Linked DNA regions of Homo sapiens. The protein of the gene in region 4 purifies or fractionates together with the protein of the main gene of each other region. This does not show direct contact. Each region holds a gene or a part of one and is shown on either strand. Other genes may lie near its edges. The genes, in order: LRP4, METTL13, DHX32, SLC9A2, LRIG3, MLF1 and KIF1A.

What was found.
Region 1: the proteins of SLC9A2 (region 4) and LRP4 purify together in Homo sapiens (affinity purification with mass spectrometry; one large-scale study listed by BioGRID and IntAct). This does not show direct contact.
Region 2: the proteins of SLC9A2 (region 4) and METTL13 purify together in Homo sapiens (affinity purification with mass spectrometry; one large-scale study listed by BioGRID and IntAct). This does not show direct contact.
Region 3: the proteins of SLC9A2 (region 4) and DHX32 purify together in Homo sapiens (affinity purification with mass spectrometry; one large-scale study listed by BioGRID and IntAct). This does not show direct contact.
Region 5: the proteins of SLC9A2 (region 4) and LRIG3 purify together in Homo sapiens (affinity purification with mass spectrometry; one large-scale study listed by BioGRID and IntAct). This does not show direct contact.
Region 6: the proteins of SLC9A2 (region 4) and MLF1 purify together in Homo sapiens (affinity purification with mass spectrometry; one large-scale study listed by BioGRID and IntAct). This does not show direct contact.
Region 7: the proteins of SLC9A2 (region 4) and KIF1A purify together in Homo sapiens (affinity purification with mass spectrometry; one large-scale study listed by BioGRID and IntAct). This does not show direct contact.

Annotation. Positions count from the first base shown.
Region 1 is NC_000011.10:46,856,217-46,859,550, reverse strand, and holds the end of LRP4 (low-density lipoprotein receptor-related protein 4 precursor), read left to right. Parts: intron 1-235; coding exon 236-568; 3' UTR 569-2,834; downstream 2,835-3,334. UniProt on the Homo sapiens protein: Mediates SOST-dependent inhibition of bone formation. Functions as a specific facilitator of SOST-mediated inhibition of Wnt signaling.
Region 2 is NC_000001.11:171,794,938-171,798,216, forward strand, and holds the end of METTL13 (eEF1A lysine and N-terminal methyltransferase), read left to right. Parts: intron 1-1,544; coding exon 1,545-1,819; 3' UTR 1,820-2,779; downstream 2,780-3,279. UniProt on the Homo sapiens protein: Dual methyltransferase that catalyzes methylation of elongation factor 1-alpha (EEF1A1 and EEF1A2) at two different positions, and is therefore involved in the regulation of mRNA translation.
Region 3 is NC_000010.11:125,874,793-125,878,292, forward strand, and holds part of DHX32 (putative pre-mRNA-splicing factor ATP-dependent RNA helicase DHX32), read right to left. Parts: intron 1-3,500.
Region 4 is NC_000002.12:102,626,053-102,629,552, reverse strand, and holds part of SLC9A2 (sodium/hydrogen exchanger 2 precursor), read right to left. Parts: intron 1-3,500.
Region 5 is NC_000012.12:58,871,655-58,875,504, reverse strand, and holds the end of LRIG3 (leucine-rich repeats and immunoglobulin-like domains protein 3 isoform 2 precursor), read left to right. Parts: intron 1-931; coding exon 932-1,075; intron 1,076-1,174; coding exon 1,175-1,450; intron 1,451-2,688; coding exon 2,689-2,933; 3' UTR 2,934-3,350; downstream 3,351-3,850. UniProt on the Homo sapiens protein: May play a role in craniofacial and inner ear morphogenesis during embryonic development. May act within the otic vesicle epithelium to control formation of the lateral semicircular canal in the inner ear, possibly by restricting the expression of NTN1.
Region 6 is NC_000003.12:158,595,194-158,598,693, forward strand, and holds part of MLF1 (myeloid leukemia factor 1), read left to right. Parts: intron 1-1,668; coding exon 1,669-1,752; intron 1,753-2,886; coding exon 2,887-3,015; intron 3,016-3,500. UniProt on the Homo sapiens protein: Involved in lineage commitment of primary hemopoietic progenitors by restricting erythroid formation and enhancing myeloid formation.
Region 7 is NC_000002.12:240,817,420-240,821,459, reverse strand, and holds the start of KIF1A (kinesin-like protein KIF1A), read left to right. Parts: upstream 1-1,240; 5' UTR 1,241-1,338; intron 1,339-2,182; exon of another isoform or gene 2,183-2,354; intron 2,355-4,040.

The DNA.
Region 1 (3,334 bases), on a different chromosome or scaffold from region 4:
CGGAAGCCATGGTTTTCCCTCCTCCTGTATGGTAATGGTAATAATTATCACAGCTGCCTCTCCCCTTTTAGGCTAGGCCTCATACACTTGTCTTAATCACATTTCCCCATTTGTTTGTGGGATTTTTGTGCGCTTCACTCCTACTCTTACCCCATCCACTTCCTTTTTCAGTTTACCATGGGATCCTTTGTAGAAGGCCAACTGACTGACCATATCTGCCCACTCTCCACCCTAGGGAGGGCCTGACCATAACTACACCAAGGAGAAGATCAAGATCGTAGAGGGAATCTGCCTCCTGTCTGGGGATGATGCTGAGTGGGATGACCTCAAGCAACTGCGAAGCTCACGGGGGGGCCTCCTCCGGGATCATGTATGCATGAAGACAGACACGGTGTCCATCCAGGCCAGCTCTGGCTCCCTGGATGACACAGAGACGGAGCAGCTGTTACAGGAAGAGCAGTCTGAGTGTAGCAGCGTCCATACTGCAGCCACTCCAGAAAGACGAGGCTCTCTGCCAGACACGGGCTGGAAACATGAACGCAAGCTCTCCTCAGAGAGCCAGGTCTAAATGCCCACATTCTCTTCCCTGCCTGCCTGTTCCTTCTCCTTTATGGACGTCTAGTCCTTGTGCTCGCTTACACCGCAGGCCCCGCTTCTGTGTGCTTGTCCTCCTCCTCCTCCCACCCCATAACTGTTCCTAAGCCTTCACCGGAGCTGTTTACCACGTGAGTCCATAACTACCTGTGCACAAGAAATGATGGCACATCACGAGAATTTAGACCTGGATTTTACCATGAACCTCACATCTTGTACTCCATCCTGGGCCCCCTGAAACTGCTTATTCGTGATTCCTCACCAGCGTAGAGCTCCACCTCCCCTTTCCCCAGTACCCTCAGTGCCTGCTTCTCAGTGCTGATGCAGCTGATGACCCAGGACTGCGCTCTGCCCCATCACAGCCAGCATGACTGCTTCTCTGAGAGAACTTGCCCATCAGGGGCTGGGACATGGGGGTGTGGGTAAAGACAGGGATGAAGGATAGAGGCTGAGAGAAGAAGGAAGAATCAGCCCAGCAGGTATGGGCATCTGGGAAACCTCCAGCCTCAAGTGTGTTAGTAACATGAAAAAGCTTTGGGGGGTAGTTGGATCTGGGTGTCTGGTCCATTGCTGGCAGTGGACATTATTCTTGCCCTAAGAGACACTGCCTTTTCAGCAGCAGATACTGGTGAGATGGGGGTGGCTCAGGCTGTTCTTCCTCCTCCTAGAATGTCTGGAGCTGTTTCTACATTCAGATAACTGGGTCCCCTATCACAAGGCTACTGGCTAATAGGAATTCCCTCCTGGTGCCACCACTGGCCAGTACCTTTCCTAAGTCTTTGCTCAAATTAACCAGGTTGTGAGCCAGTGGCTTGAGTGAATGTTAGGCCTTGGGGGCTGAGTCTCTGAAAAGTCTAAGAAGCTCTGCCTAGACCAAATATGGTATACCTCCTGACCCCTCTCTCCCTCATGTCCTGGGATTCTGGGGAAGAGACCTAGAAACAAGCTTTCAAAGAAAAACCAGAAGTTGTCATAAATGGTCAGAAAGAACGATCAGGTTGGAGACTTGGGAAACCCAGGGCCTAAAGAGAAGTATCCATGAGGGTCAAACTTCCTGTTGAACTTCCTATGTTCTTTCTCAAGTGCTCAGGGATCTAAGTTAGTGGACAGCAAGCCTGTGGCTACGGGGTGGTGATGTTCCTCTTCCAGCTGTCCCCTCAGCTAAGGGGCTTAGTTTCCATGTGGGATGCCATCACTTGGTTCATGCTCATTCACACAAAGGGCACGTGTCTCAGCCTGGTATCAGGGAAATTGAGACTTATTTTTGCCCTAAAACGTCTCCCTAGCTGTTCTTCGTGGGGTTTTTTTGTTTGTTTTTTTGCCTAATTTGCTTTTTCTGACCAAGCCTTGTGGCACCAGCAATCTCCAAAGTCCTGTGGTGGGAGGGCTGAATAAATAAAAATACAAAGAGGTGGGTAAGGAGTAGGAAGGTAGAGAGCACCACTGATGAGGCCCTCCTAGCCCATGGCAGACCCAGACCTCTTCTCCCCCAGGAATTAGAAGTGGCAGGAGAGAACAACAGGGGCTGGGAATGGAGGGGAGAATTTCTAGGGGAAGTTTCCTGAGTTGAAACTTCTCCTGTGGTTACTGGTATTGAGAAATCAGCTACCAAAGTGAAAAAGGACAAGATCAATTCTTTTCTAGTCAGTTCTAAGACTGCTAGAGAGAGATACCAGGCCCTTAGCCTTGCTCTCAGTAGCGTCAGCCCCAGTTCTGAGCCTCCCCACATTACACTTAACAAGCAGTAAAGGAGTGAGCACTTTGGGTCCTTAGACTCACGTCTGGGGAGGAAGAGCAAGTAGAAAAGTGGCATTTTCTTGATTGGAAAGGGGGAAGGATCTTATTGCACTTGGGCTGTTCAGAATGTAGAAAGGACATATTTGAGGAAGTATCTATTTGAGCACTGATTTACTCTGTAAAAAGCAAAATCTCTCTGTCCTAAACTAATGGAAGCGATTCTCCCATGCTCATGTGTAATGGTTTTAACGTTACTCACTGGAGAGATTGGACTTTCTGGAGTTATTTAACCACTATGTTCAGTATTTTAGGACTTTATGATAATTTAATATAAATTTAGCTTTTCTTAATCACCTTGCCTGGCTTGGAGTCATGACTAATCCTGCACCTGCTCTGTCTGGCAGACCCATGCTGTGGAAAACCTGCTTACAGACATCACTTTTAAGTCCTTTGTGGATGTGGGCACAGTGAAGAGCAATAAAGAGTGTGAGGTTCCTGCTGGAGTTTTCAGCTCATCTGGAGAAGACAGGTCGAGGCCAGAGTTCCTTGACTGATGAAACCTTTATTTCCTCTGGAAGAGGAATGGTAGATGGGTTTCCTCTTGAGTGCTGACTCTGACTGGTTGGTAGTGGCTGCCTGAGGGCCTATTCGCACCCAATGGGAAGAATGTCATATGGCTAGTGACATCTCTTCTGTGCACTGGAAGGAAATGTCATGGCATGTATACCATGTATCTTCTATTTCTGTTCTAGGTCTTTGTTACAGAACTTTACTTTGCCTTGCAGTGATGGTCACTGGCAAGACTATCTCATGTAGTAAGAAAAGTACTGGAGCTGGGGACATGGAGGGCTAATTCCAGTCCCAGATCTGCCACTAGCTCTGTTTGATCTTAGTCAACTTTCATAGTTAGTCTGAGAGTGGATCAAATTATCACTAGGATTTCATTTATTTTTAAAAGCTGTCTTTTCATAGCTCATCCACTACTTCTCAAGGCTAGAACAAG
Region 2 (3,279 bases), on a different chromosome or scaffold from region 4:
GTCACCTGAGTAGCTGGGACTACAGGTGGATGCCACCATGCCTGGCTAATTTTTTTATTTTTATTTTTTGTAGAGATAGGATCTCAACATGTTGCCCAGGCTGGTCTCAAACTCCTAGCCTCAAGCGATCCTCCTACCTTGGCCTCCCAAAGTGCTGGGATTACAGGCATGAGCCACTGAACTTGGCTGAATGTACTCTTTAAGTGTCCATTTTCTTTCACTCAACATGATGTTTGTGAGACTCATTCACAGTGTTGTGTTTACATGGCTTATTTTTATTGCTGTGTTATATCATGTAACTTAACACAATTCGCTTATCCATTCTACTGTTCGTATTTGGTTTGTTTCCTGTGTGGGTCTATTATAAGTGGTGCTGCCATTAACATTCTAGTATATGCCTTTTGATGAATTATGTTTTCAGATCTCTTGGGTATATACACAGGGTTGTAATTGCTGGATCATAGGTTATGGGTATGTTTTTGGCTTTTGTAGATGCTACCACACAGTTTTACAAAGTGGTTGTAGCAGTTCACACTCCCACCAGCATGGTGATGCTAGCTACTACATGATGCTTCCTACACGTGCTCTACTAGGCAGTGTGTTATTTAATCTTCATAGCAGTCCACTTTTTGGATGAGGAAACTGAGGTTGAAGATTTGCCAAGGTGACGCAAGGTAACAGTTGGGGCTCAAAGTCAGTGCCTTGTCACCTCAAAACTGGAGCCTTTAATCCCTATGTTAACAACCCTCTAGGTATTTTTGATTTGGTGTAAGGCACTGTGGTAACTGGCTTGATTTGGAATCTTAATTGTCAGAAGTCAAGATAACCTCGGCCCTGTCACTGGTTAATACTCTATGGTGTGTATGCCAAGAATGTAATATCCCTGTGGAGTTGGTAAATTTTACTTTCGTAGGGAATCACTTTCTATTGATTGATTGAGACAAAGTCTCATTCCGTCACCCAGGCTGGATTTTGGCTCACTGCAACCTCTGCCTCCTGGGTTCAAGAGATTCTCCTGCCTCAGCCCCACTAGCAGCTCCTGCCTCAGCCTCCCTAGCAGCTGGGATTACAGGCGTCCACCACCATGCCCAGCTAATTTTTATATTTTTAGTAGAGCCGGGGTTTCACCATTTTGGCCAGGCTGGTCTCAAACTCCTGACTTCGAGTGATCCGCCTGCCTCAGCCTCCCAAAGTGATGGGATCATAGACATGAGCCACCGTGCCCAGCTGGGAATCACTTCTTTCTCAAAGCTATTCTTTGAGAAGCTATTTGGGAAACTGAGGCTTGGAGAATGGTAAAATAACATGTGAGCAGCACAGAAGAGCAAGAAATAAGGCTGGAGTTTGTTTATGGCTCACATGCTCCCCATGCTTTTCTCCATCTGCCTTTCTATGCTGTGTATTCTCTGCAAACTCATCACCACCGTGTGTTTTAGTCCACCAGTCTCCCTGGGACAGGAATTGGTATTTTCCTCAAAGCCGATCCTTGTCTTTCATATGTCTCCTGATGTGAGGTCATTCTGACTTTTCTTCCTACCCTATAGGTGTTTTTATTCTCAACCTTGTGTGCCGAGACTTGGGGCTAAAAGACTCAGTGCTGGCTGGGCTCAAGGCAGTGTTCCCCCTCCTATATGTCCGGCGAATTGAGGGTGAAGTGAATGAGATCCTGTTCTGTCAGCTGCACCCTGAGCAAAAACTTGCCACACCAGAGCTCCTAGAAACAGCCCAGGCTTTGGAGCGGACCCTGAGGAAGCCTGGGAGGGGTTGGGATGACACGTATGTCTTGTCAGATATGCTCAAGACGGTGAAAATTGTGTGACTGCTTAGGCCAAGCAGCCCTCCTGCCTAGACTGACCTTGGACTCCCAGCCTGCCAGAGAATGAAGAAATACAACGCACAGTACTTTTGAAGCTTCGTATTTTTCTTGGTTTCACACTCAGCTACATGTGACCTCCAGCTTGGTGAGGTTGCCTGAAGATTAGGGAAAATAAAAATGTCCTTCCCATCTTGTCCTCTTCAGTACCACTTGGGTTGGTTTGTCTTTGCTTCCTACACCACGTCCTTGAGTGGAGTTCCCTGCTGAAGCCCCTAGCACACACTGCATGCCTTAACAAGTGTGTGCAAGCCCCTCAGAACTCAAGACATCCAAATTTTATTGCGTCTCTACTTATACTGGTTTGCTTTTGATTTATTCCTCTATTAGTTCTATAGGAGTGATCTCAAGTGAGATAGCAGAGCAAGATGCCAAAAGACCATAAATAGAGTAAGGTTTCTATAGATGTGAGACAGATTTGAGAGAGCATTTACTCTGTCTCCCTGTGGATGAAACTGCTGCTGAAATGGTTCCAATTTTTAGGAATCTGCTTACCCACTTCATTATTTGACAGCTTTCCTTGGTGACCCAAACCTTGTAGCCTAAGCCATTTGTCTTTTTCTCAGTGGAGGGAGTGTATGGACCTGGCCCCATGGCTTTGCATGTTAGAGACCTGGCAGACTAAAGTCTCTAGTGTTTGTTTGCTCACATTTGCTGAGTGACAGCTATGTGCCAGACTGCATAAAGGGTGGTGGCAGAAGTGAAAATGTTTAAGAATGACCAAAAACATTAGTAATGAAAGTTAATGTGTTCCAGGCATTCTTCTAAGTGGTTTACATGCACTGTCTCATTTAATCTGAGATAAAGGATACTTAAGCCCAAACTATATCTAAACCCAAATCTCACTTGGCTGGAAACATCAATCTTAACCATTTATTCAGAACCATTAAACCAATGATTCCAAGACTGGCTTGAATTTTGTCTTTCCTAATTATACCGAGGTTGACTTAATGAGCAGTGCCATGGAAAATAGGCATTGTCACCATTCACCACCTGGCTCTTCTTTCCACAGGCCCTTTAAAAATGGACCCTGACCTTTCAGTTGAAGCATACAGATGCTCTTCAGCCTACGATGGGGTTATATCCTGATAAATCCATCATAAGTAGAAAATGCATTTAATACCCTGATAACCCATTGTAAACTTGAAAAATTGTAAGTCAGAGACTGTCTGTATTTCAGTTAGGTTGTCATCCTTAGAAAGTAGTGTCAGTCTGTTAAGGAGAGGAGGGAGTGCAGAGAAGTGTTTTTAGATCTTACCCATTAGAAATACTTGGTTCTCTTTCTTTAGGAGGGGATCTTCCCCTGGAACCCCGTAACGGGAAGATTATCCCTCATGTCAGGTCTGTGTACCCCAGAGGACCTTACTTGGCAAGTCCTTTCTTTTTTCTTCCTTGTTTTTGAGACA
Region 3 (3,500 bases), on a different chromosome or scaffold from region 4:
GAGGTAAGAAAATAGAAATACATAAAAATAGAGAAAGACAGAGAGAAACAGAGCCACAAATAGATGGATAGAATGAGACGTGTGTATATTGCACTCACATACATTTATTTCCTTGTTGTGTCCACTGAGATGGCCTAAAAGCAATGATAGGCCGGGTGAAGTGGGCCTATAATCCCAGCACTTTGGGAGGCCAAGGCAGGTAGGTTGCTTGAGCCCAGGAGTCCGAGACCAACCTGGGCAACATGACAAAACCCCGTCTCTATAAAAAATACAAAAATTAGTTGAGTGTAGTGGCACACACTTGTAGTCCCAGCTACTCTAAAGGCTGAGGTGGGAGGATCACTTGAGCCCAGGATGTTGAGGTTGCAGTGAGCCGTGATCATGCCACTGCACTCCAGCCTGGGTGACAGAATGAAACACTGTCTCAAAAAAAAAATTGCAATGATAAACCAATGGTAATAGGTACTTAGTGTCCAGATCTTGGTTTCAAAACACAGTTCACCACTAAACGGAACAAGGACTCCTGGAGAAAAAAAAAATGGTTTCTACACCGGCATGCGGAATGTACTAGATGAACCTGGAACATCTTACTGAGCCAGAAAGCAAAGAAGTGCTCAATAATGGGGAAATGTCAAAAGGACAGAGAAGCCACATTGGGGGCAATTTGAACAACAAAGTAAGTAGGCTTAGTAATACATTATAACCCATAGAATAAAATAAGAATTTATGAGTCCACATTGACATAAATAAATGATGAAGGAGAGAAAGCTCAGACTTACAGAAAGATTCTAAATAATGTGTAGAAGGCATGTCAGAATTAGAATAATCATCTTTGGTTACTACTAATGTAATAATTCAAAGGTAAGAATCACCAAAAATGCTAACACTAGTGGATGAATGTGAAACTGCCTTTGCAGAAATTGTAACAGTGAGAAAATTATGATGGTGAAGGAGATCTGACCTGACAACTCCATCTTGCCTTTCACCCCCAAACTCCCTTAGCCATTCCTGCAGTGGGCCAAGCTAACTTTTGTAGATAGTTTATAGTTTAAATGATGACAGCAAAATGAAACTGCCTTTGTAAAACTAATGAAAGGACACCAGGTTAGGAGGATGAGAGGGGCCTGAATTCTGCCAAGATGTAGGTGTAGTTAAATGATTACCAGTCATTATTCCAGAGGTCACAAGATTTGTAACCTCCCTGTAAATAACATCACTATTATAGAACCTAAGATTGGCCTTCTGAGATGTCTTTTCAGGTTTTTGTATTTCTGACAACTGGAGGCCCTATAACTGGATAGACCAGTAACTCCTCTGTTGTCCCTACCCAGAAGTGGACTCAGCACATGAGGACTGTTTTCCACACCTCTGTGATTGCATCCTCAGCCAATCAGCAGTACCCATTCCTTAGCCCCCTGCCCACCAAACTATCCTTGAAAAACTCTAGCCTCCAAATTGACAAAGAGGCTGATTGGAGTAATAGTACAACTCCTGTCTGCTGTTTAGCCAGCTTTATGTGTATTAAATTCATTCTCTATTTCAATTCCCTTGTCTTGATAAATTGGCTCTATCTTGACAACAAACAAGATGAACCCATTGGGTGGTTACAAATGTATAATGAGAAACATTTACATACTTTCAAAATATGTATCTATTAAATGATTGGAGGGAAATTGTTAACTTTTCAATAAAGAACCAGGCAGATACCACCTTACCAAGGGATCAGAATTAACATCACCAGCATGGGCAAAACTGACATCTTGTGCCTCCTGATATGAGGCACTGAGAAGGATACACAGCACTTGTGTGATCTTCTTGCCACAAATGCAGAGCCGGAACCTAACCCTAAGGAAACATCAGACATGTTCAAACTGAGGGAGGTTCTGCAGAATATATAACCTGTGCTCTTCAAAAATGTCAAAGTCATAAAGGACAGGGAGAGACTGGGGAGTTGTGTCAGATTAAAAAACGACAATAAAATACAATGCAATTTTAGATTGGATTTTGGACCAGAAAAACAATTTTTTTCAGTGATTATAAAGGCTATCAATGGGAAACTGATTAAATGTGAATGTCTAGAAATCAGATAATAATTAGATATCAACATTACATTCCAGATTTTGATAATTATGTTACGGCTACACACTGTTTTTCAGTAAATAAATACTCTGTTAAGTATTTGGAGGCAAAGGGCATCATGTCCTCAACCTACCCCTAAATGGTTCAGAATAAAAATGTGTATGAATGTATGGAGGGGGCAGGGAGGGAAAGATAAAGTTTATATGGTAAAATCTTACATTTGGGGAATCTGGGTGAACAACATATGGAAAATCTTTGTACTATTTTTGCAACTTTTTGTAAGTTTGAAATTATTGTAAAATAAAAACACATTTTTTCAATGTTATTTGTCCACAGAAACTAGGAAAATTATACTCAGTCAGTTCTCATCGTTAGCTTCTCGTAATGAACTGAAATCGTTTGTTATAACAATAACAGCGTAACAAAGAACAAATCATAATAAACCTTTGATACTGGCAGCTGTAAATCAGATAAAAAACATCTGTTGTCCAGCCCTCCTCTTTTCAAATTACCTTTAAAGTAAGTTAACTTTAGGGCAGGTACAGTGGCTCATGTTTGTAATCCCAGCACTTTGGGAGGTGAAGGTGGGAGGATCGCTTGAGCCCAGGAGTTCGAGACCAGCCTGGCCAAAATTGTGAAACCCTGACTCTACTAAAAATACAAAAATAAGCCAAGCATGATGGTGCATGCCTGTAATCCCAGCTACTCAAGAGGCTGAGGCACAAGAATTGCTTGAACCGGGAGACGGAGGTCATAGTAAGCCAAGACTGCCCCACTGCATTCCAGCCTGGGTGACAGAACGAGCCTCTCTGTCTCAAAAAATAATAGTGATAATAAAATAGGTAAACTCTAGAGATAATAAACAACTTGAAAGCAACAATTTATAGTAGAAAATATTCTTTTAACTCCAATTCAGAAAGCTACTGACATTAGATAGACAAATTATCAAATCCTTCTGGGCCACAGTTTATTCATCTGAAAAATGAAGGGGTTCCATCAGTTTCTAATTCTATTCTATTAGAGCATAGTCTATTCTACTAGATCTATTCGTAACTTCTCTATGAGAAATGGGACTTCTTATTATTCACACTATATGGTCTATTCTAATTCTTACATCGCGAGAATCTAGAAATGAATTTCATGATAAAAATACTGGTTGCTTGCTTTAAAACTTAAGAGTAAAATATGGATCTCACTTGAACAAAAACTTGAAGTCCAAATACAACAACAAACTGAATAATAAGTATTTATTAACTATCTAATGTTGGGGCTCAGGACATACCTCCCCAGAATATGACTGAAGGAGACCAGAATATGTGACCCCAAAATATGCCTCCTTTGCACATTTTGAGAAAGTGTAGACATAGGAGTAGCTCTGAAAAGTTACCTTTTTAAAGATAAATTTGTGCCTATACAAGAAA
Region 4 (3,500 bases):
TACATTTCTCTTTTTAAGCTACGGTGTTTTAAAATGTGAAATTAAAGATGCAAAATCCAGATCTATGTGGTTTAATGAGGCCTAGCCAAATGAAAATAACATAACTCATTTGATAGTATAGGTATAAAAATATACATCTGGAAAATGTAGATATAGAAAACAGATATGGAAAAAAAGTACATGCGCAAAATCAAGTTTTCTTTTAAATGGTAATAGTTTTATATGAAAAAATACACTTTGAGCCACAAGTACTGGAAATAAGGAAGTTAAAAACTTAATAATTAAAGGAAGAACTCACTCTGGAGATGTAACAATATTGAATGAGTATGTAATAACATAGCATCAAAACAAAGCAAAAATTGAAACAATTACAAATGGTAATTGACATCACAATTTTAGAAGTGATTTTAATGTACCCCAGGAACTGATAAAGTAACCAAAAAACTGGTAATGCTATTGAAGATTTTAACACCGTAATTAGAAATTTGACCTAGTCTCTATGTGTCTGCATATGTATACATCTAAGTATATAAAATCCTGTACACAATAAATAGAGAATACACATTGTTTTTTCAAGTATAAATGGAAAATATAGTTTTAAAATGTCCATAAAATAAGCCATAAAGGATATCACAATCAACACTAAAAATCAGCATTATACCTATCTAGCCAAAATGCATTAAAATGTCAATAAAATAAAAAACAACTGGGCATGGTGGTGCATGCCTATAGTTACAGCTACTTGGGAGGCTTAGGCGGGAGAATCATTTGAGCTAAGGAGTTTGAGAGCGGCCAAGGCAACATAGTGAGAACCTATCTCTAAAACTGACAATGACAACAAAAACCCCAAATCTCCATAAGTTTATTAACTGAGAAGTAAAATTCTAACTAATTATTGAGTCAGAATAAAATATCACAAGGGGGTTTAAAAATACCGAGAGCTGAGTGACAGTGGAAACCCCGCATATCAAACCTATGCAATACAATTAAAGTAGGAAAAAAGGGGTATATTTCTAGCCTTAAATACATATATTGCCGTTCTTCCAAAATTTACCCATTTGGATCATGAGAATTCATCTTTGAGAAGAGTTTCATTGAATAATCCTATTTTAGTTCATGAAGCATTCCTTTGGCTCCATGAAGATCAAACTGATTTTGTGGACTCTGAGCATCCTGAGATGAGATCCATCAAAAGCAGTCATCATTCCAGTTTTATCATTGGTATGTTGTGTTAAGAAATCCTTTCAGAACACCCATGGTTTCCTACTTAACAGCAGTAAAGACATCATGCAATTTATTCAGAAACTGATATGTCATTTGCATAATTTTCCTTATATCTTTTGTCTTTACCATTCTCTTTATTGTTATTATTATTTGTATTAAAGATGAATTTACATAAACTTTGAGTATTATGAATACGTTTAGTTTGTGACAGAGTCTTAAGTGTACAGTATATCATAGATTTGAATTTAATGAAAACAAGCAAATACCCATATTTGGGATAAATTGATAAGGGGAATTGTCTTATTAGGAGTTTCAATAAGTAAGTAAGCTACTGAAGTAATTTTGTTCATTTTAATAAGACTGATGTCACTTTAGCATAAGTGCATGTCAATTTTGGAGCTCAGGGATTCATAAAAATACCAGCAGAGAAACTATTGAAAATAATATTAATTATGTTTTTAAATATTGGTGTTTCTTACTCTTGTAAGGCGGGAATTAACAATATTAACAGAACATAAGTAAACCAAACAATTAATGGGTTAAGTTTTTAATTCAAGGATTAATTAAATAAATAAACCCAAAGAAAGCTGAAGTAAGTAAATCATAAATGTAAGAGCAGAAGCAGATAACTTAGAAGCTAACCAAAAGCTAATTCTTTGATAAAGTATCAAATAGACAAACTCCTGCATACCTGATCAAGGTGAAAAAAAGAAAAACATAACAATATTAGAAACAGAAAGGAGAACATAAATGCATATAAAGTGGAGATCTTTTAAATCATAAAATAACTTCCAATAAATTTTTAAAAACTCAAAATAATAATTTTATAAAAAATACAAATTACCAAAATTGACCCCAGAAGACACAGATAAACCAAATAAAACTATAAACATTAAAGCCACGGACTCACTGGTTAAAATCTATCCATATACCAAAACCATCAATTCACTTGCTTTTACAGGTGAGTTTTTATATCACCCAAGGAACAGTTTGTTTTTTTTGTTTCTAAGAGAGCAGGTCTCCATCTGTCTTTGCCCACTCCCACTGGAGTGCAGTGGCATCATCGCAGATCACTGTAACTTTGAACTCCTGAGCTCAAGTGATCCTCCTGACTAGCTCCTGAGTCACTGGGACTAAAGGCACAGGCCACCAAACCTGGCTTTTTGTTGTTGTTATTGTTGTTGTTGTTGTTGTTGTTAACATTTTGAAGAGATTGGGCCTCACTATGTTGCCCAGGCTGGTCTCAAACTTCTGGCCTCAAGTGATCCTCTCACCTCAGCCCCACAAAGTGCTGACATCACAGTTGTGAGCTACAATACCCAGCCAGAACAAATGGTTTTATGCAAACAGTTCATTGTATACTTCTTAGGGATTCAATCTAGGTGAAATAATTCTGTAAGAAATAAAGCTGAGTATTGTTATCATTGTTAAAGTGGATATAATGTAACATTTTCATTTGGTGATAAAAATATCTATTATTTCTCTGATGGCCAGTGATGATGAGCATTTTTTCATGTGTCTGTTGTCTGCATAAATGTCTTCTTTTGAGAAGTGTCTGTTCATATCCTTCGCCCACTTGTTGATGGGGTTGTATGTTTTTTTCTTGTAAATTTGTTTGAGTTCTTTGTAGATTCTGGATATTAGCCCTTTTTCAGATGAGCAGATTGCAAAAATTTTCTCCCACTCTGTAGGTTGCCTGTTCACTCTGATGGTAGTTCATTTTGCTGTGCAGAAGCTCTTTAGTTTAATTAGATCCCATTTGTCAATTTTGGCTTTTGTTGCCATTGCTTTCGGTGTTTTAGACATGAAGTCCTTGCCCATGCCTATGTCCTGAATGGTATTGCCTAGGTTTTCTTCTAGGGTTTTTATGGTTTTAGGTCTAACATTTAAGTCTTTAATCCATCTTGAATTAATTTTTGTATAAGGTGTAAGGAAGGGATCCAGCTTTGGCTTTCTAAATATGGCTAGCCAGTTTTCCCAGCACCATTTGTTAAATAGGGAATCCTTTCCCCATTTCTTGTTTTTGTCAGGTTTGTCAAAGATCAGATAGTTGTAGATATGTGGTATTATTTCTGAGGGCTGTGTTCTGCTCCATTGGTCTATATGTCTGTTTTGGTACCAGTACCATGCTGTTTTGGTTACTGTAGCCTTGCAGTATAGTTTGAAGTCAGGTAGCGTGATGCCTCCAGCTTTGTTCCTTTGGTTTAGGATTGACTTGGCAATGTGGGTTCTTTTTTGGTTCCATATGAACTTTAAAGTAGCCATCAGAGAAATGC
Region 5 (3,850 bases), on a different chromosome or scaffold from region 4:
CAACTTTTCCCATAAGTATTTATTATACGCTCTGTGCCAGACATTGTAGTTGGGAGAGAAGTATATGTTTTCAATTTCACAGTTTCGTCAGAGGTGGATAAACTAAAAGTGCTTGGCAAGCCAGAAATAAAGAGCGTAGAGTTACAGGATCTGAGCATAGAAGTGAGTATTCTGGTTAGACCCGTTTAGAGGCAGAGTGGAGACCCAAGCTCATTAAAGCATAATGGGGTTAACTGAAAAGACACTTAAGGAAAACCTAAAGGGACAGAACTGGGGCATAATAATGCCAGGCTGCCTAGATGCTGAGGCTGGAGATGAGGCTGCTCCCAGAGTAGCTCTGGGCCACCAGCATTACTGTGTCACGTTCTGCATATTTGCTTTTCTCTCAGCCCACCACCTCTTGCTGCCCAGTTTCTGCTTCCCAGACACATGCGTCATCGTGACATCTCTAACCCTGATGATATCATTTACTCTTCACCTGCTGTGTCCAGCAGTAAATGGCGTATATTTCTGTGTTGTTTGGTTCAGATACTCATGAGATGATATGTTTAGCTGAGCTTATCTTTGAGATGGGCATTAAGAGGTCATTGGCCAAGTGCCAATCCTGGTTCTGGTCATCTGGGACCTTTTGTAAGAAGGGGACAGTGCTGATGGTATGTGGTTTAGACCATGGCTGCTTTGGCTGCAGGATCTGCACATATCAGTTTCCCGTAGAAACCAAGTGAGCAATAAGGCCACCACACCTAGCACAATGGCTAATTAAGTCCTCTAATAAATTTTTTAAAACCCTACTGTAAATTTTTGCAATTTTTTTGTCTATATGATGTTCTAGTCAAACTTTCATCTATAAATATGGAAGATGCCAAAACTGGGGAGAATGTTGAATGGCACTTGAATAATTGGATCATTGACTAAGATTTTTGTTTCAAAGGGACCTGCCATATTGACAATAGCAGTGAAGCTGATGTGGAAGCTGCCACAGATCTGTTCCTTTGTCCGTTTTTGGGATCCACAGGCCCTATGTATTTGAAGGGAAATGTGTATGGCTCAGATCCTTTTGAAACATATCATACAGGTAGGTGGTTTTCTTGCTTGAGTACAGTTCTGTTTCTTAGAGAGACTTCTAGATGTGCTAACTGTAATCTCCTTCTGTTACTGCCCCCATATTAAAAAGGTTGCAGTCCTGACCCAAGAACAGTTTTAATGGACCACTATGAGCCCAGTTACATAAAGAAAAAGGAGTGCTACCCATGTTCTCATCCTTCAGAAGAATCCTGCGAACGGAGCTTCAGTAATATATCGTGGCCTTCACATGTGAGGAAGCTACTTAACACTAGTTACTCTCACAATGAAGGACCTGGAATGAAAAATCTGTGTCTAAACAAGTCCTCTTTAGATTTTAGTGCAAATCCAGAGCCAGCGTCGGTTGCCTCGAGTAATTCTTTCATGGGTAAGTTTATTAAGTTATCAGGTACCTCGTCTGAGGATCCATACTCCAAGTTGTGTGTGAGAGAGCAATGACAGCCTTGAATGTCAAACTGGTAAAAAATGGTTTCTTGAATGAGGCTGCCATGACATCCGACTAGTTAGTGTAAATGCCTCCAAAAGCAAAGTCAGAGGTGGGATTTTACTTGATGATGTGTTTAATCTATAACTAAGCCTCAGGAGCTTTCTGGGTAGCACTGTGTGTGGCATCTACTCCAAGACAAGGGTTTGGGGAGGACTTAGGAGCTCAGCTTGTCAGCCATGTGGAAAAAGTGGTTTTGGGCTCCCACGGCCTTTGGGGTGGAGTTGTGTGCTCTGCATGATTGTGGTTTGGTATGTCTGGTGGCTTCCAACTGAACCCGCAGTCGAAGGGTGGAAAACAACATCCTACCTAGCAACAACTGCTAGTCTGACAAGCTGGACTACCTTTGGCCAAGAAAACCAGCCTTAAGGTCCAAGTCGGTGGTGTTAGATGCTGGCTGGCACTGAGATTAGGTAGTGAATTTTTTCGTCTGATGCATGGGGATAATAGGATGGAAGAGCTGAGGTCATCTTTTCACTGAACAGAGAGATGGAAAAATCAGCCACAACTTGCCATGTTGACAATAAAATTTAAAAAAGGAGAATTTTCAAATATTTTACCCAACTTCTACGAAATGTTATGTTTTATCACAGTGTAATTATTTATATTCCTTTTTTGGAAAAAATTAAAATAATATGCTTTGTATAACTGAGGCAAGAATTTGATTCAATTGAGTAATATTTGGCTACAATTAATGAAGAAAGGGCAGGACACAGGTTTATTTTGAAAGAAAATTTCTTTATTTAGCCTCAGTTAACTTGGATGTTACCATCCAACACACCCGTCACCAAAATTGGGCTCTCAGCTAGGATGTGGGGAAACTTATATTGGGGAACTTTATTGCATGACCATTAACATTACTACAGGTCATGAGAAATGATAAAGAATAGATGCATTTGTTCAGTGGATGTAAATATGAGGGAAGGCAAATGTCTTTTGCTCCATTCTAGAAGTGATCTGGCTGTAAGACAGATGTACATGTATGTGAGTGCCATAATGTGGACTTGTAGAAAACACTTACTCATATTCATGGGGTAAGATGTTCCTTCATTTGCAATGGGTTTTATTGATTCACATGCTAGCAAAGGGACCCATGTGCTCAAGGTGTTTCTTTCTTTCAGGTACCTTTGGAAAAGCTCTCAGGAGACCTCACCTAGATGCCTATTCAAGCTTTGGACAGCCATCAGATTGTCAGCCAAGAGCCTTTTATTTGAAAGCTCATTCTTCCCCAGACTTGGACTCTGGGTCAGAGGAAGATGGGAAAGAAAGGACAGATTTTCAGGAAGAAAATCACATTTGTACCTTTAAACAGACTTTAGAAAACTACAGGACTCCAAATTTTCAGTCTTATGACTTGGACACATAGACTGAATGAGACCAAAGGAAAAGCTTAACATACTACCTCAAGTGAACTTTTATTTAAAAGAGAGAGAATCTTATGTTTTTTAAATGGAGTTATGAATTTTAAAAGGATAAAAATGCTTTATTTATACAGATGAACCAAAATTACAAAAAGTTATGAAAATTTTTATACTGGGAATGATGCTCATATAAGAATACCTTTTTAAACTATTTTTTAACTTTGTTTTATGCAAAAAAGTATCTTACGTAAATTAATGATATAAATCATGATTATTTTATGTATTTTTATAATGCCAGATTTCTTTTTATGGAAAATGAGTTACTAAAGCATTTTAAATAATACCTGCCTTGTACCATTTTTTAAATAGAAGTTACTTCATTATATTTTGCACATTATATTTAATAAAATGTGTCAATTTGATGCCAAGCCCCATTTATACAATAACAATTTTTATTATTTTTAGCACAATTTAGGCTTAATTAGTTCACATTATCATGTCTCAAACGGATGGGAATTATATTTAGCCCATTAAAGTATGAACAAAAATGACCGTTTTTTCTACCTCCCAGGATTGTTGTAATACAGATTGAAATCAGATTGTGCATATGAAAGCACAATTGTAAACGAGAAGGAGCTACAGAGATTTAAGGTACATTATTTCTAAATCTACGAACAAAAAAAGATTTGTTGTTATAATCTGGTGTAATATAGTACAACTACCATAAATCACTGCTCAATTCATGTTTCTTTAATTATAATAATGGTTTACGTGGTCTAATGCCTTATGCTTATCCAAGTAGTTTCACTTTTGCCGTCCCTTTTCTTACAGCAAGCGAGTGGTTTATTGCATATGTCTATAGCTAAAATGGCTCTAGCAGAAGTGGACTTTCATGCACTGTTCCAGGTTGTAATGAGATGCT
Region 6 (3,500 bases), on a different chromosome or scaffold from region 4:
GGGATTAGACAGGTGACCAGCGGTGGCCTTTCTCAGGTGGTGATACTTGAATCATGAGAAGGAACTAACTAGGTTTAAAGTCAGGAGGAAACATTTAAGGAAGAAAGAGGAGAATGTGTACAAAATTTTTGAAGGCCTTAAGGGCCCACTGAAGTCTCAACTACATTTTGTACCCCAACTTTTTGTCACTCCAGTGTGTTGGGTCACCCCAGAGCAAGTGCAGATACATCTTTTGATGGTTGATTTGAACATGAATTGAGAAGAGGGCAGAAATACCCAAATGTCTAATCTTTTCCTCTCTCTCTTTTTATCCTTCTTTGGGTTAACCTTTCCATATCTCATGAAATAAGAACGGATTCTCAATCTAGTGTTAAAGCAAATATTCAGAATATTCCCTGAATTGTGTTTGCCTCTCTGAAATGCAAAATTAATTCTACTTCAGTCCTTTTTTACCCAAATATATATTAGTATTTCCTAAATGTGCCTTTGTTGTTCCCTACAATATTAAGTGCAGGTTCTAAGGAGGAATTTGGTTTTCCCACCTATTTTACATTATTATATCTGTAAAAATCCAATAGCAATAGAACACAGAGACACAAATAGAACTTAGGAGGATTCAGAGCTCCGCTTGGTTGAACAGAGAAGTTCATTAAACCAAGCAACTCATTCTGTTTTATAACAGATGATTTACTGGCTAACACATTGGAATGTGTGCCTGACTTTTATTTTCTGGTGAGTCTTCCAGTGATAAAACCTAAAATCAGTGGTAGATTTTAAAACCTAAAATCAGTGGTAGATTTTCCTAGAGCAAAGTTTCTCAACCTCAGCCCTACTGTCATTTTGGGCAGGGTAATTCTTTTTGTTCTGGGAGACTGTCCTATCCATTGTAGGATGTTAAGCTGCATCCCTGACCTCCACCCACTAGATGCTAGTTATATGCTCTCTTCATCTGTGACAGCCAAAAATGAGTATAGTTATTGCCAGTGTCCACTGAGAGTCAAAATCAATCTTGGTTGAGAAACTACTGTTTAGAGGAATTCTTAACTGTTTTTCTGAAGACACATACCTCATGCTTCAAGGGTATAGCCTACTGACCCTTCAGTAGGCAGCAAATTGAAGGCCTATTAGTAAAGTGAATTGATTTCTGTCACCCAGATCCTACTATGATGAGAGGAAGGCTGGCTACTTACTCGAGGGACAACTTCTGTCAGCCATGTGGTACTGCTGGAGGTGACACTGGCATCTTATACGCAAATTTAGTTATTTGCATGGTGGAGTATTGAGAGATAAGGAAAATTATGAAAACTATCGTATGCTAGAGAATGTATCACTTAGTATTTAACATACACCAAATTATGTTTTGAAAAAGTGAGTAATGAGTGATTAGGTGTGTATGTGTTTTTATATATACATGCACATATATGTATTTATAATGTTACAGTTCCCTAATTATTTGTATGTTGGCTCTTTGGGATTTTGTGTATGCTTCAATTTTCTCCTTAACTAATCACTGTCATTATATCCTCTAAGTTATCTTTGTCTGGTTGATTACTGCATGAGATTTCACTAAATGAATTGGAAAAAAATGTTTTAGCTGTTTTGGAAGATGTATTTGCATCTTTTGTGTTGTTACCTACAGTTAATAACATACTTCCTGATATTCTGTAGCATACAGATGTCAGCTCTTTCCAGACAATGGACCAAATGGTGTCAAATATGAGAAACTATATGCAGAAATTAGAAAGAAACTTCGTAAGTACTAAAAACAAAGCATTGAGAACATTGTGTATACTTTGATATATTCTATTTCATAGTGGCTTTCAAACACTTTTTTAACCATAGTGGTTAAAAAAGATACCTTACATGATTAACCCAATAAGCAATATTTGTATACTTTATAAATATATTTGAAGCAAAAGTTTCATGAAAAAATGACTATACTATTTACAGTATATACAGTTATTTTCTAGTCTATTTCATGTATTAAAAATCCTGGTTACAACCCACTAAATTGAGTTCATAACCTCCAAGTTTGAAAAATAATGTTAACTTTGAAAATTTTTTAAAAATTGGAAAAAAAATAACCTCAAAAACATTGATTCTATTGAAAGTCACTATTGTAAATGAACATTTTATATGAATTTGCATAATTTTATTATTAATAACCTGTCTACTTAAAAGGATTTGTAGCATCTGAAGAGTTTCAGGGTTTTATAAACGACTCTGAAAACAGAAATTTTAGGAATAATGTTTAGGTATAGTTCCCTAATAGTCCAAATAAACTAGTACTATAATAATACTCTCTATATTAACATCAAAACCAGTCACTTGATTTGATCTGAAGAAGACCCATAACATTCTAGTCATCCAGTTTGAATTCTATGGATCATTTCAGAATGCCCAAATAATCTAGGGCATTATTGGTTTTAGTAATGTAGCAATCTGGTACCTACAGGAGGAGGTACGAAACTTGATGTATAACTAATTGATTGGCTTAATGTTGGCAAGATTACACACAAGGGTCAACCACTGACTATAGAAGTATCACAGGTTTGGGGGCATAGCATCTTTATTGAAATCTAAGCCACGAGCACCCAAAGACTTAAGGATCTCTGAGTGAGTCACTTATTAGTCTTTGTAACGAGAGTGGGATAATTGTACCTAAAATGGACGACCGTTAGGACCCTCTAGGGGTGACTTTTTTTGGGCGGAGGTAATTTTTCAAGTCACTTCTCACTTGAGAACCTGGGTGTGCCTTTGACTACACCATATTGGTAGTTTAGTATCCTTAGTAGAACTTACAGCTAGTGTTGTTACTTATTTGAACTCTCTGGCAATAATTATTTATATTTGACTCGACTGAATTTACAATTTGTTTACCTGTAGGGTCAACTTTCAGTGGATCCAAATGGACATTCATTTTGTTCTTCCTCAGTTATGACTTATTCCAAAATAGGAGATGAACCGCCAAAGGTTTTTCAGGCCTCAACTCAAACTCGTCGAGCTCCAGGAGGAGTAAGTTTTCTATAAGCATTCCTAAAGTTTTATAAAGTTAGGGGATGATAGACTGTCTAGATCAAATTTTAACTATTAAAATTTAATCTGGTACAAGATGGTGGGGGGACAGGAGGGAGGTGTGGGGGTTGGGGGTAAGGTAGTCCTCACTGTGGAAACCATTAAAGCTCAACTGTATTTACTTAGTTTGTGGCATTTTTTTTGTAGCCCCCCCACCCCCCCGTGAGGGTGCCTTTTTTCATGTAAATATCTATGGATGTTTATTACCTTTACATGTTGACAAGGTAAACAAAACACGAAAAGAAGCCTTTGTTTCATGAAATTAATGTCTATTTTTAAGTTTACATTTGAAGTGAATTAATTTTTTAACTCATGAAATATTTCAAGTGTACAGAAAGGATATAGAGAATAACATAATAAGTGCCCATATTCCTGCCACCCAGTTTAGTCATATCATAACATTTTTCTCTATTTGCTTCAAGTTG
Region 7 (4,040 bases), about 140 Mb from region 4:
GCTGTCTAGCTGGTTTCGGCGGGGCTGGGGCTGGGAGTGGGGGGCCCGTGTCTTGCAGAAGTGGATGTGAATCTCCCCCAGCCACCTGCAAGGCGCTCGCACGCAGCTGTCGGGACTGAGGTGAAGCCGGCTCTCCCAGGAGTGTGGATGAAATGGTTAACGGCGAGGCCGCTAGGGCAGCGCAGGCCCCTGCTGGGCGCCAGGGAGGCTTAGCCAGGCGACGCCAGGATGCCCATGGCAGGGGCTCGATGGCAGGGGCTGGGCTGGAGGGGACCCAGCCCCGGGGTTCAGGGTGGCCCGAAATCCGTGCACCCCCGCACCGCAGTGCGGGGAGGTTCCCATGGGCGAGCTGCCCAGAGGCTTTGTCGAAGTTGCCCAGCCCTGGGACGGTGGAGGGAGGACGGTGGCGCGCACAGAGATACCAGTCAGCCCCTGGAACTAGGAAGGCGGCTGGGGGCGGGTGACGCAGGCTGGGGTTTGCCGGGGTGGCCCCCGAGCGGCGTGTGACTTGGGGGTCCAAGGAAGTTAAACTGGACAGGCTGGGGTGAGGACAATGGGGGCCTGGAGAGGTGGGGCGAGAGGAGGGCGGGGGGTCCCCACGAGCCGCGGTAGAGGCGAGGCGGCGGGTCCGCGGGCGGGTTGCATCATCCGGCGGGGAGGGCCTGGGTCACTGCTGCTCTTCCCCCGGCGCCCCGGCCCCGACACAAGATGCGATTTCACCGCGCACCTGTTACACCCGGAGCCAGCATCCCTGGCGCAAGGAGCCCTCCCTCCCCAGCCCCGCCCGCCCCCCACGATGCGTCTGTCGCTGGCTCAGAGCGGGGGCAGGTGGACGTTTTACGATTTCACTCGAAAGGGGCCAGGGTGGGGGACGGCCCGGCGAGGGGTCCGCGGGCAAGTTCAGGTGCACGCGGGGCTTCGGGACGGGGCGCCGCCGGGTCCCTCCCCCGCGAGGTCTCAGGGGCACGCCGGGGGAGGGGACGCTGCGTCCGAGCCGGGTGTCGGTCCCCCACCCTCCGCGGGGCCCGCCGCGGTGTCAGCGGTGACGTCACAGCCCGGCCCCGGCCCCCTCCGTCCCCAGCCCCATCCCCGCGGCGGCCGCGTCGCCCGTCCCTCTCCCCGCGCGACAAACCAGCTGGCGACTGGAGCTCGGACGCCGCGCGCAGCCAACCAGCGCCTCGGGAGGGGCGCGGGGCGGTCCGGGCCGGGGGCGCGCAGCCCGTCACGCGGCGGCGCCGTCACAGCGCAGAGCAGCCGGCGAGCGGCAGCAGCTCCGGGCTCGAGAGCCCGCGCCCATGCCAGTGCCCATGCGGGGCCGCCGCCAGTGACGCCGGAGAGGTAAGGCCGCCGCCCGCCCGGCCTCCCGCGCCCGCGCCCCTCGCCCCGCACCTGCGCCCGGCAGCCCGCGCCCGCAGCCCGCACCTGCACCCACTGCGCCCAGGGCGGGGAGCTCCGGCCCGGCGCCCTTGTTGCCGCCCAAAGCGCAGGCACTGCGAGGCCCCTTCACTTCCAGACCTTCCTCCATCTCCGCAGAGAACAATGGGGGAAATTCAGGGGTGTCCGCCCTTCAGGTGCCGCTGGAAAAGGTCCCTTTGCCGCGATCTCGGCTGCAGCGGGACCCTCGGCTTAGGCGGGCGGGGGTCGCCCTCGGGAGGGCTCGCCCGGCCGGCGGGATCGGGATACCCCCGCCCTTCCCCGGCTATTCCGCTTCCCTGGAGAGGAGCCACCGGCGGGGCTGCGGGAGGGGCTGCGCCCAGACGGCGGGGGAGGGGAGGGATGGTGAGCGGGGCTGAGGACGCTGACGCCGCACCTGGGAGGGTGCGCGGCTGCAGCGCCTCGGCCCGAGGGGAGAGCGCGCAGGGCGGCCGGGCGCGGGCAGCTGCTCCGGTTCCCGGGGTGGGGGAGGGCGGATGCTGGAGCCGGGAGCAAAACAGGCGGGCGGGGCGGGGGCTGCGGCGTTGGGGCCTGGCCACCCGCTTCGTTGCACGGCCGGCCTGCCCATCACCCCCTCCCACGCCAGAGACCCCAGCTCCCTTCCAGAAAGACCCAGCACCTGGGAGGGGCCGCCGGCGAGCACTGCCTGCGTCTCAGCAGCCAGCGCCCCTGTAACAGGTGTGGCCCGGCGGCGAGGGAGGGGCTGCGGGGCCGCAGGGTCTAGGCTGGCGGCGCGCCCCCGGCGCCCGGGCTCGGATGACACGAAGGAACAGTGGCCGCGAAGACCTTCGCACTCCCGCTTTAAGCCGCTCCTCACGCTGACTTCCCCCAAACCAGCCGCGCTGCCCTCTCGCTGGGAAGGGCCGGGGCAGCATCCCCGCCGGGAGGGAGGGTCCGCAGGAGCGGGGCGCTGGGCGCCGGTAGGTGGGGTTGGGGGGGCCCTGCCGGCCGCAGGGGCGGGAGGGGGAGGGGAAGGAGGGAATGCCAAGTCATGGGGCCTGCTGGGCGCGAGCGCGACGTCGCCCGGCGCGGACCCGATGCGCGCCCACGTCCCCGGGAATAGGGACTTTCCCCCAGAGACTGGAGGACCCCTTCCCCAAGCGTCAGCCCTTTCCAAGGGGTGCCTGCATTGCTGGAATTAAAGGCCTGCCAGGGCAAGCGGATTGGATCTTGCGGCTGCGGAGAGGAGGCGGTGCGGAGAGGCCCCTGCCTCGCAGGGCTGGCACTGGCCTCACCCTGGGGACGCACAGCGCGACACCGTGCTCGGCTCTGCGGGACACCAGGTCGCACTCAGGCTGGCGGGGCCTTTGCCAGGGAAGCCATGCCAGCACCCTCGTGGTGTGAGAAGGCAGCAGAGGGTTTGAAGGGAAGCTCTGGGGTCCACGTGGGGGTTGGGGCTGCACCTGCGGCGGCCATTTTGCAGGTGTGGTTGGCCACCAGCCTTAGCCAGGCTGTGGAGTGGGGCAGTCAGGAGTGGGGCAGTCAGGAGTGGAGCAGATGTGGAGCTTGCGGTGCAGGGTGTGGGATGGGCCAGGGCCAGGGCTCAGGTCTGCCCTTGCACTGAACACACACCGTCTATTTAGAGGGGTTCCTTGTTTGGTTGATGGGGTGGTTGGAGTCAAGACCCAGGAACCCTCTGGACCGGAGGGATGAGGAGGGATGCGGTAAGGCCGCTGGCTGAGGGGCCCAGCGTGGGATCGGAGGAGGGCAGCCTTTACCCGGGGTGAAGTCTCGGGAGGGTGCTGGGTCCAAGGCAGGGCCCGGATGAACAGCTTCACTCCGGCTGCAGATGGATCTGAGGCCCTGCAGGTGTCCTCCCCGGGCAGGTCCGCAGGGTGGACAGAGGCTGGAATCAGTTGTCAAGGCAGGGGTCCCGGGCCGGGCCCAGGGAGGTCCCTGTGGTGAGGGCCTGCAAGATGTCTGCTGTGTGCCAGCCCTGCTCCCAGCCGGGTGCTGCCCCCCTGGGTGCCTCCTTTCCCCCTTCCCCACTGGAATGTCCCACAGACTGCCCCATCTGGGGCTCCAGCCGGCCAGCCACAAACAGGTGGAGCCTGGAGTTCTGCCCAAAGCCCAGGGATGATGCTTGGCTGGATCAGGATTAAAACTGGGGTCACTGCCCGGCCGCCCAGCCTGTGCCCCGCAGTCCTCACTGATGTCATGACTGCTGACCTTGGGCCCACCATGCCCTTTGGGAGTAGGGTAGGGCAGTCCTCCTGTGGGATTTGTGAAGGGTGGAGGGGGAGATGTGAGCTGGAGGAGGAGGCCCTGGAGGAGACTGAGGGCATCTCTTCAGGCCACTCAGCCGGGCCGGCCAAAGCAGGTGAACTGGGTGTGGTGGGGACGGGAAGGGAGACGTTCCCACAGAGCCCTGGTCCTACCAGATTGGGGTCTATGGAGGGGCTACCAGCATTAGGTCATTGGGATTTACTGAGCCCTGCACATGCCTAGCTGGCCAATCCCGTCAGGCCTGAGACCATCCGTGCACATCTATCAGTGAGCTGGGAGGGGCCTGAGCCGCTACCACGGGTGGAGAGTGGTGGGCCTGGGTCTCTGGGTGGCTGTGATTGGTAGGATGAGCACGTGGTTGTCTGCCTGCAGAGTCTGGG